3 separate regions of the Homo sapiens genome follow, and all the other regions are linked to region 1. The links come from fine-mapping of genetic effects on gene expression. A gene starts in region 1. Each other region holds a variant in brackets. All regions are shown on one strand. Distances are from middle to middle.

Region 1 (2,841 bases):
TCCGCCTTGCAGGCCCCGCCGGGCCCGGCCCCGCCGCCGCCGGCCTCGTCCTCGAGCATCTCGGCGTCCAGCGCCTCCTGCAGCCGCTGCGCCAGATCCACCTTGAGGCCGCGCGAGTCCAGGCCCCGCCGCTGCAGCTCCGACCGCAGCTCGGTCACTTTCAGCCGCTTCACCTCCATCGCCGCCGCCGCCTCCTCCGCCTCCCGCCGCCTCCTCCCCTGCGAACCGTCGACCGAGTCCGACCGCGCAGGCGCCGCCGCCGCCGCCCGCCTCCGCCTCACGCGCCAGCACTGAGCCCGCGCGAGCGAGCGCACGCACGCAGGAGCGGAGGCCGCGCACGGTCCCGCTGCGCAGTGTTTGCTTCTCCTTCGTCTCCCCTCCCCCTTTCGGCTCACGGAGCCCAAAACAACGCAGCAGGGAGCTGTTTCCCCTCCAGGCCCTTGGTTCCCCAGCCGCGGGCAGGCGCGCGCGGAGGACGACGGAGTTCCTCCCGCTTCCTCCCGCCCTCTGGCGCCCCCGGGCCAATCGCCGCCGGTGCTTTTATCGCGCAGCCGCAGTGGAGTCCAAGACGGGCAAGGCTGGCTGCAGCTCAAGTGCCTCGTAGCACGGAAGCGTGTGCGCGCCGGTCTTTCAGTACTTCCAGCCGGGGAGTTCTGCGCAGCCGCCCGGAGCTCCCCGATGCCATGCCCCTCCCACCACCCTTACTTCCGTCTGACTTCCATTTGCTGTGGCGTTTTAGGGGTCGCTAGCCTCTTTTCCCTACTGTCTGTGCTTGCAGCAGTAACGACAAAAAAAAAGTCATTAGAGAATGTGTTGCAACATGTAAGCCTAGTAGCAATTGTTTTTCTGGCTAGGAAGCAAAAGGGCTCCCCAGAACGAAGAAATACTGTAATCCGGGCCCTCCTTTTTCCTCAACGCCTCAACTTCTACCCAGCAACAGAGGCCCTTGAACCCGCCCTTTTTCTCTTATTGGACAACTTGAATCGTCATTTGCCGTTCCGATTGGTCATCCGTGATCGTCCGGATTTTTCCAATTGGCGAAGCTGCCAGGGGAATTTTTTTTTTTTTTTTTTCCCAGGTTGGTCCGCTGAGGAGGCGGGGTCGTTTCTGCGGGATTATTTTTCCGGAGCCTCTTCTGATTGGGTGGTGTGGCGCAATGCGCGCGACCCTCAAGATACCAAACTGTACGCATCTCTGACCCTTTCCTCTCCTTGCTCCTGCTGGTAAACCGAAGCCCAGGAGACTTCCAGGTTTGGGCATCTGCAGAGGGCGAGGAACTGGTCACGGCGCCGGGTGGGCTTGCAGCTGTGACGCTTATGTGGACACCTCAGTGTCGCTGGTGGTTCACCTCGGCTTCCCAGTTTATTTATTGACGTCAACAAATAAATGTTGAATAAGGAAGAAGAGTTAGAATTGCTTGAAGCCCTCTGGAGTTTTAGCACTAGTCCCGCCCACTCCCTTCTACTTCCAGGTCGGGGGGGGGCGGGTCCAATAGAAAGGCGGAAGCCAGTGTCCCAGGCGTTCTCACGCCCGCAACAATTCCTGAGTAGGGCCTTGCTTGAGTTCTTCGGAAAGTCTCATCCACCCCCACATCGCCTCTTTAGGAAGTCACTTAATGTTGGGCTTCATTATTCCCACATCCCTTTCCTTACTACTTGCCTGCACTTCTTGAGAAAAAGACTGCAGAAAGGAGAGGTGGGGCTTTCAGTAGAAACAAGCAAACCGCAGGTCCCTGTGGGGGGACTCTCCAGGAAGAAGGGTAATTTCCTGCCTCCTTAAATTGGCTGCTACTGTCAGTTATTTTGCTCCCAACCCCAGAGCTTCACTTGCTCCTTCACTTCCCAGTTCCGCAAGAACCGTGGGCGACAGTTATGGAGAAGCGTCTGCAGGAGGCTCAGCTGTACAAGGAGGAAGGGAACCAGCGCTACCGGGAAGGGAAGTACCGAGATGCTGTGAGTAGGTACCATCGAGCTCTGCTTCAGCTGCGGGGTCTGGATCCGAGTCTGCCCTCTCCGTTACCTAATCTCGGACCTCAGGGCCCGGCCCTCACGCCTGAACAAGAAAACATATTGCATACCACCCAGACAGACTGCTATAACAATCTAGCTGGTAAGAACGGGGCTAAAGGGTGGCTAGAGAGCATTAAGACAGGAACATGAACATCTGTGAACATTGGGGGAAAAAACGCTGACTTTTTTTTTTTTTTACTGTCATCCATTTATTCTGCCATGAATTGGAATAACCTGTCAATCTGTGCGGCTGTAATTAAGTTGCCATAGAGCAGGGCTTCTCAGACTTCACCTGGAGAGTCTGTTAAAACACAACCTCCTCGGCCCCATCCCCAGAGATTCGGATGGGTCTGACGTGGGGCCTATCAGTTTGCATTTCTTTATTTTTTTATTTTATTTTATTTTATTTTATTTTATTTTATTTTTTTTTGAGATGGAGTCTCGCTCTGTCTCCCAGGCTGGAGTGCACTGGCGCGGTCTGGGCTCACTGCAGCCTCCCCGTCCCGGGTTCAAGCAATTCTCCTGTCTTAGCCTGCCCAGTAGCCGGGATTACAGGCGCCCGCCAGCCACCACGCCCAGCTAATTTTTTTTTTTTTTTTTTTTTTTGAGACGGAGTTTCGCTCTTGTTGCCCAGGTTGGAGTGCAGTGGCGTGATTTCGGCTCACCGCAACCTCTGCCTCCCGAGTTCAAGCGATTCTCCTGCCTCAGCTTCCTGAGTAGCTGGGATTACAGGCATGCGCCACCATGCCCAGCTAATTTTTGTATTTTTAGTAGAGACGGGGTTTCATAATATTGGTCAGGCTGGTCTTGAACTACTGACCTCAGGTAATCC
Region 2 (2,500 bases), 32 kb before region 1:
TGTTGGTAGCGCCCCAAGACTCAGAGTAGGAAGGCTTCTTCACAGGGATCACCCTCAAGAGGTTAAAGATTTGCCACCAAACATGCCCTAGTTTTTCCTATTTCTATATTCTTCTAGCCCCTTTATTGATTCATATCTGGCAACAAGGCCCTCACACAGTAGTATATAAAAATTACAGGAGTGAGGGTAAAGCTTCTGTTTTTAATTAGAGGTAATGGGTTAAAAAAAAAAAAAAAGGTTAGCCAGGTGCAGTGAGTCATGCCTGTAATCCCAGCACTTTGGGAGGCCAAGGCAGGTGGATCACCTGAGGTCAGGAGTTCGAGACCAGCCTGGCCAACATGGTGAAACCCCCCGTCTCTATTAAAAATACAAAAATTAGATGGACGTGGTGGCAGGCGCCTGTAATCTCAGCCACTCAGGAGGCTGAGGCAGGAGAATCGCTTGAACCCTGGAGGCGGAGATTGCAGTGAGCCGAGAGCGCGCCATTGCACTGCAGCCTGGGCGACAAGAGCAAAACTCTGTCTCAAAAAAAAAAAAAAAAAAAAAAAAAATTTGGAAAATACTTCCCTAGCCCATAGTGAACTACCTCCAAAACATGGGTTCAGCCTTGGGGGTGCTTTCAGTGTTTATCACTAAGGCAATGGTTGACACCACTGATAGGGGCCTTTTTTTGTACCTTCTTATTGCCAGTCAGAACTATCTGTTGGCCGGGCGCGGTTGGCTCATGCCTGTAATCCCAGCACTTTGGGAGGCTGAGACGAGTGTATCACAAGGTCAGGAGTTCAAGACCAGCCTGGCCAAGATGGTGAAACTCTGTCTCTACTAAAAATACAAAAATTAGCCGGGCGTGGTAGCAGGCACCTGTAATCCCAGCTACTCGGAGGCTGAGGCAGAGAGCTGCTTGAACCCGAGAGGCGGAGGTTGCAGTGAGCTGAGATCGTGCCACTGTACTCCAGCCTGGGTGACAGAGCAAGATTCTGTCTCAAAACAAACAAACAAACAAAAAACTATCTGTTGAAGAAAATGGATTCCATGAGATTCCTACCCCCCTGTAGAGACCAGATGATTAAGCCAGTTGCTTCATAAACTTTTTGTGTGTGTGTGTGTGTGTGTGTGTGTGTGTGTGTGAAGACAAGGTCTTGCTCTGTCACAGGCTGGAAGGCAGTGGCATGATCATGGCTCACTGTGCCTGGAACTTCTGGGCTCAATCTATCCTCCTGCCTCTGCCTCCTAAGTACCTGGGACCATACGGACTATAGGCACATGCAACCACATGCAACTAAAA[A/T]TTTTTTTTTTTTTTTGGAGAGACAGGGGTCTTGCTTTGTTGCTCAGCCTATGAATTCTTCCCCTCAACCACTCCCCCAGTCTATTAATTCTTTTCTTTTTTGAGACAGGATCTCGCTCTTGTCACAAAGGCTGGAGTGCAGTGGTGTGATCACAGCTCACTGGCAGCCTCAACCTCCTGGGCTCAGTTGATCTTCCTGTCTCAGCCTCCTGAGTAGCTGGAACTACAGGCATGTGCCACCACACCCAGCTAATTTTTTATTTTTTTGTAGAGACGGGGTCTCATTATGCTGCCCAAGCTGGTCTTGAACTGCTGGACTCAAGCAATCCTGCCTTGGCCTCCCAAAGTGCTGGGATTATAGGTGTGAGCCACTGCCCTTGGCCCAAATTCTTTGAAACATTAAAATAGGTAGTTCTCTTAGCCAGGTGTGGTGGTGCATGCCTGCAGTCCCAGCTGCTGAGGAGACTGAGGCAGGAGGATCCCTTGAGCCCAGGAGTTTGAGGCTACAATGAGCTATGATTGGGCCACTGCACTCCAACCGGGGTGACAGAATGAGACCCCAATTCAAAAAAAAAAAAATTAATCTCCTCCAAAGGGATCCACAGAATTTAATACTAAAACCTTGTGAATAAATCCATGCCGGCCGGGCGCGGTGGCTCATGCCTGTAATCCCAGCACTTTGGGAGGCCAAGGCGGGCAGAAGACGAGGTCAGGAGATCGAGACCATCCTGGCTAACACGGTGAAACCCTGTCTCTACTGAAAATACAAAAAAATTAGCCGGGCATGGTGGTGGGCGCCTGTAGTCCCAGCTACTTGGGAGGCTGAGGCAGGAGAATGGCGTGAACCCGGGAGGCGGAGCTTGCAGTGAGCCGAGATCATGTCACTGCACTCCAGCCTGGGCAACTCCGTCTCAAAAAAAAAAAAAAAAAAAAATTCCATGCCTTTGTCCACAATTGCCTGCTTGATGGGCAGATTCTCCCCCTTCTCTAACATTCCCATGTAATATTCACCCTTCCTTAAAAGATCCGCTTTGGGCCCGGCACAGTGGCTCATGCCTGTAATCCCAGCACTTTGGGAGGCCAAGGCAGGTAGATCACCAGGACAGGAGTTCCAGACCAGCCTGGTCAACGTGGTGAAACCCCGTCTCTACTAAAAAAAAAAAAATACAAAAATTAGCTGGACATGGTGGCATGCGCCTGTAATCTCAGCTACTC
Region 3 (2,841 bases), 44 kb before region 1:
TCTCAAAAAAAAAAAAAAAAAAAAGGAAAAAAGGCACAGGGTATTCACTGCAGTATTATAACAAGTGTATTCAGGATAACATATGTATTCTTTTTTTGTTTTTAGAGATGGAATCTCACTCATTACCCAAGCTGGAGTGCAGTGGCACGATCTCAACTCACTGCAACCTCTGCCTCCCTGGTTCAAGCGATTCTCCTGCCTCAGCCTCCCGAGTAGCTGGGACTACAGGCGCCCGCCACCACACCCAGCTATTTTTTGTATTTTTAGTAGAAATGAGGTTTCATCATGTTGGCCAGGCTGGTCTTGAACACGTGACCTCAAGTGATCTGCCCACCTTGGCCTCCCAAAGTCCTGGGATTACAGGTTGAGCCATTAAGCCCAGCGGGGATAACATAGTATTCTAAATTTATTGTAGAGGTTCTATAATAGAATAAATTTTTTTTTTGAGATGGAGTCTCACTCCGTAGCCCAGGCTGGAGTGCAGTGGCGTGGTGTCAGCTCACTGCAACCTCCACCTCTTGGGTTCAAGCAACTCTCCTTTGTCAGCCTCCCAAGTAGCTGGGACTACAGGTGCCTGCCACCACACCCAGCTAATTTTTGTATTTTAGTAGAGATGGGGTTTCATCTTGTTGGTCAGGCTGGTCTCAAACTCCTGACCTCAGGTGATCCAGCTGCTTCAGCCTCCCAAAGTGCTGGGTTTTAGGCATGAGCCACCATGCCTGGCCTTCTTTTTTTTTTTTTTTTTTTTTTGAGACGCAGTTTCACACTTGTTGCCCAGGCTGGACTGCAATGGCGTGATCTGGGCTCACTGAAACTTCCACCTTCTGAGTTCTTTTCTTCTTTTCTTTTTTCTTTTTCTTTTTCTTTTTTTTTGAGATGGAGTCTCACTCTGTCGCCCAGGTTGGAGTGCAGTGGCATGATCTCCACTCACTGCAAGCTCCGACTCCCGGGTTCATGCCATTCTCCTGCTTCAGCCTCCCGAGTAGCTGGGACTACAGGTGCCCACCACCTCACCCGGCTAATTTTTTTTGTATTTTTAGTAGAGACGGGGTTTCACCGTGGTCTCGGTCTCCTGACCTCGTGATCCAGCCGCCTCGGCCTCCCAAAGCGCTGGGATTACAGACATGAGCCACTGCGCCCAGCCCCGCCTTCTGGGTTCAAGCGATTCTCCTGCCTCAGCCTCCCGAGTAGCTGGGATTACAGGCGTGCACCACCATGCCCAGCTAATTTTGTATTTTTAGTAGAGACAGGGTTTCTCCATGCTGGTCAGGCTTGTCTTGAACTCCCAACCTCAGGTGATCCACCAGCCTTGGCCTCCCAAAGTCCTGGGATTACAGGCATGAGCCACTGCCCCCGTCCTGATTTTTAAATTTTTTGTACAGTTAAGGTTTTGATATTTTGCCCAAACTGGTTTTGAACCCCTGGTCTCAAGCGAGCCTCTTGTCTTAGCCTCCCAAAGTGTTGGGTACAGGCATAAGCCACTGCACTGGGCCATATTATTCAGTATTAATTGAAATTTGTATGTGTTACTTTTATCTT[T/TA]AAAAAAATTTTTTTTTTTTTTTGAGACGGAGTCTTGCTCTAGCCCAGGCTGGAGTGCAATGGCGCAATCTCGGCTCACTGCAAGCTCCGCCTCCTGGGTTCACGCCATTCTCCTGCCTCAGCCTCCCCAGTAGCTGGGACTACAGGCACCCGCTACCATGCCTGGCTAATTTTTTTTGTATTTTTAGTAGAGACGGGGTTTCACCATGTTAGCCAGGATGGCCTCAATCTCCTGACCTCGAGATCCGCCCGCCTCGGCCTCCCAAAGTGCTAGGATTACAGGTGTGAGCCATCGCGCCCGGCTTAAATTTTTATTTATTTATTTACTGTTTTTGAGACGGAGTCTTGCTCTGTCTTCCAGGCTGGAGTGCTGTGGCATGATCTTGGCTCACTGTAACCTCCACCTCCCTGGTTCAAGTGATTCTCCTGCCTGAGCCTTCCCAGTAGCTGGGATTACAGGTGCCTGCCACCATGCCCAGCTAATTTTTGTATTTTTAGTAGAGGCAGGGTTTCGCCTTGTTTGCCAGGCTGGTCTTGAACTGACATCAGGTGATCCGCCCTCCTCAGCCTCCTCCTCGGCCTCCCAAAGTGCTGGGATTACAGGTGTGTGCCACTGCGCCCGCCTTATGTGTTACTTTTTTTTTTTTTTTTGAGATGGAGTCTCGCTACGCCGCCCAGGCTGGCATACAGTGGCGTGATCTCAGCTCACTGCAGCATCCGCCTCCCAGGTTCAAAAGATTCTCCTGCCTCAGCCTCCTGAGTAGCTGGGATTACAGGCACATGCCACCAAGCCCAGCTGATTTTTTGTATTTTTAGTAGAGACGGGGTTTCACCGTGTTAGCCAGGATGGTCTCGATCTCCTGACCTCATGATCTGCCCACCTCAGCCTTCCAAAGTGCTGGGATTACAGGCGTGAGCCACCACACCTGGCCCATGTGTTACTTTTATAATTAAAAAAAGTTAGAATGGCCTGTAATCCCAGCACTTTGGGAGGCCAAGGGGGGTGAATCATTTGAGCCCAGGAGTTCAAGTCTAGCCTGAGCAAAATAGTGAGACCCCCCCATCTCTATAAAATATATACATATATATTATTTAAAAAGTTATAATATCCACACAGGTAAGGATTATACTGTGTAGTAACACAAAACAGACTTTTCTACATTCGTTTAATTAAAAAAAATTCAAGGCCGGGGGCGGTGGCTCAGGCCTGTAATCCCAACACTTTGGGAGGCCGAGGCGGGTGGATCATGAGGTCAAGAGATCGAGACCATCCTGGCCAACATGGTGAAACCCCATCTCTAC

Which allele goes with the higher level. Positions count from the first base shown, and alleles are read on the strand shown. Sizes are in standard deviations (SD) of each study's normalised expression.
In carriers of allele T in region 2, the expression in lymphoblastoid cells of the gene that starts at base 1,509 in region 1 tends to be higher than with A alone (moderate effect, 0.41 SD a copy in GEUVADIS).
As copies of TA replace T in region 3, the expression in sigmoid colon of the gene that starts at base 1,509 in region 1 goes down (small effect, 0.29 SD a copy in GTEx).

The links. PIP is the estimated chance that this variant, and not a neighbour inherited with it, causes the effect.
Region 2: its variant is the best candidate, but not a certain one, in a credible set for the expression of TTC9C in lymphoblastoid cells (GEUVADIS, PIP 0.60).
Region 3: its variant is the best candidate, but not a certain one, in a credible set for the expression of TTC9C in sigmoid colon (GTEx, PIP 0.62).

Annotation. Positions count from the first base shown.
Region 1 is chr11:62,726,978-62,729,818 of GRCh38, forward strand. It overlaps TTC9C (tetratricopeptide repeat domain 9C), which reads left to right and starts at 1,509. Exons shown (of 3, transcript NM_173810.4): 1 at 1,509-2,109. The coding sequence starts at 1,872. It overlaps HNRNPUL2 (heterogeneous nuclear ribonucleoprotein U like 2), which reads right to left and starts at 480. Exons shown (of 14, transcript NM_001079559.3): 1 at 1-480. The coding sequence starts at 179. It overlaps HNRNPUL2-BSCL2 (HNRNPUL2-BSCL2 readthrough (NMD candidate)), which reads right to left and starts at 407. Exons shown (of 24, transcript NR_037946.1): 1 at 1-407. RefSeq lists silencers at 1-300, 471-630 and enhancers at 891-940, 1,191-1,390, 1,781-1,890.
Region 2 is chr11:62,695,187-62,697,686 of GRCh38, forward strand. All of the region lies in intron 3 of BSCL2 (BSCL2 lipid droplet biogenesis associated, seipin), which reads right to left. All of the region lies in intron 16 of HNRNPUL2-BSCL2 (HNRNPUL2-BSCL2 readthrough (NMD candidate)), which reads right to left. Among named protein-coding and RNA genes, the nearest start is that of LRRN4CL, 6.9 kb to the left of the region's middle. The variant A/T (reference allele first, on the strand shown) is at 1,286.
Region 3 is chr11:62,683,308-62,686,148 of GRCh38, forward strand. No RefSeq gene overlaps it. Among named protein-coding and RNA genes, the nearest start is that of LRRN4CL, 4.8 kb to the right of the region's middle. The variant T/TA (reference allele first, on the strand shown) is at 1,540.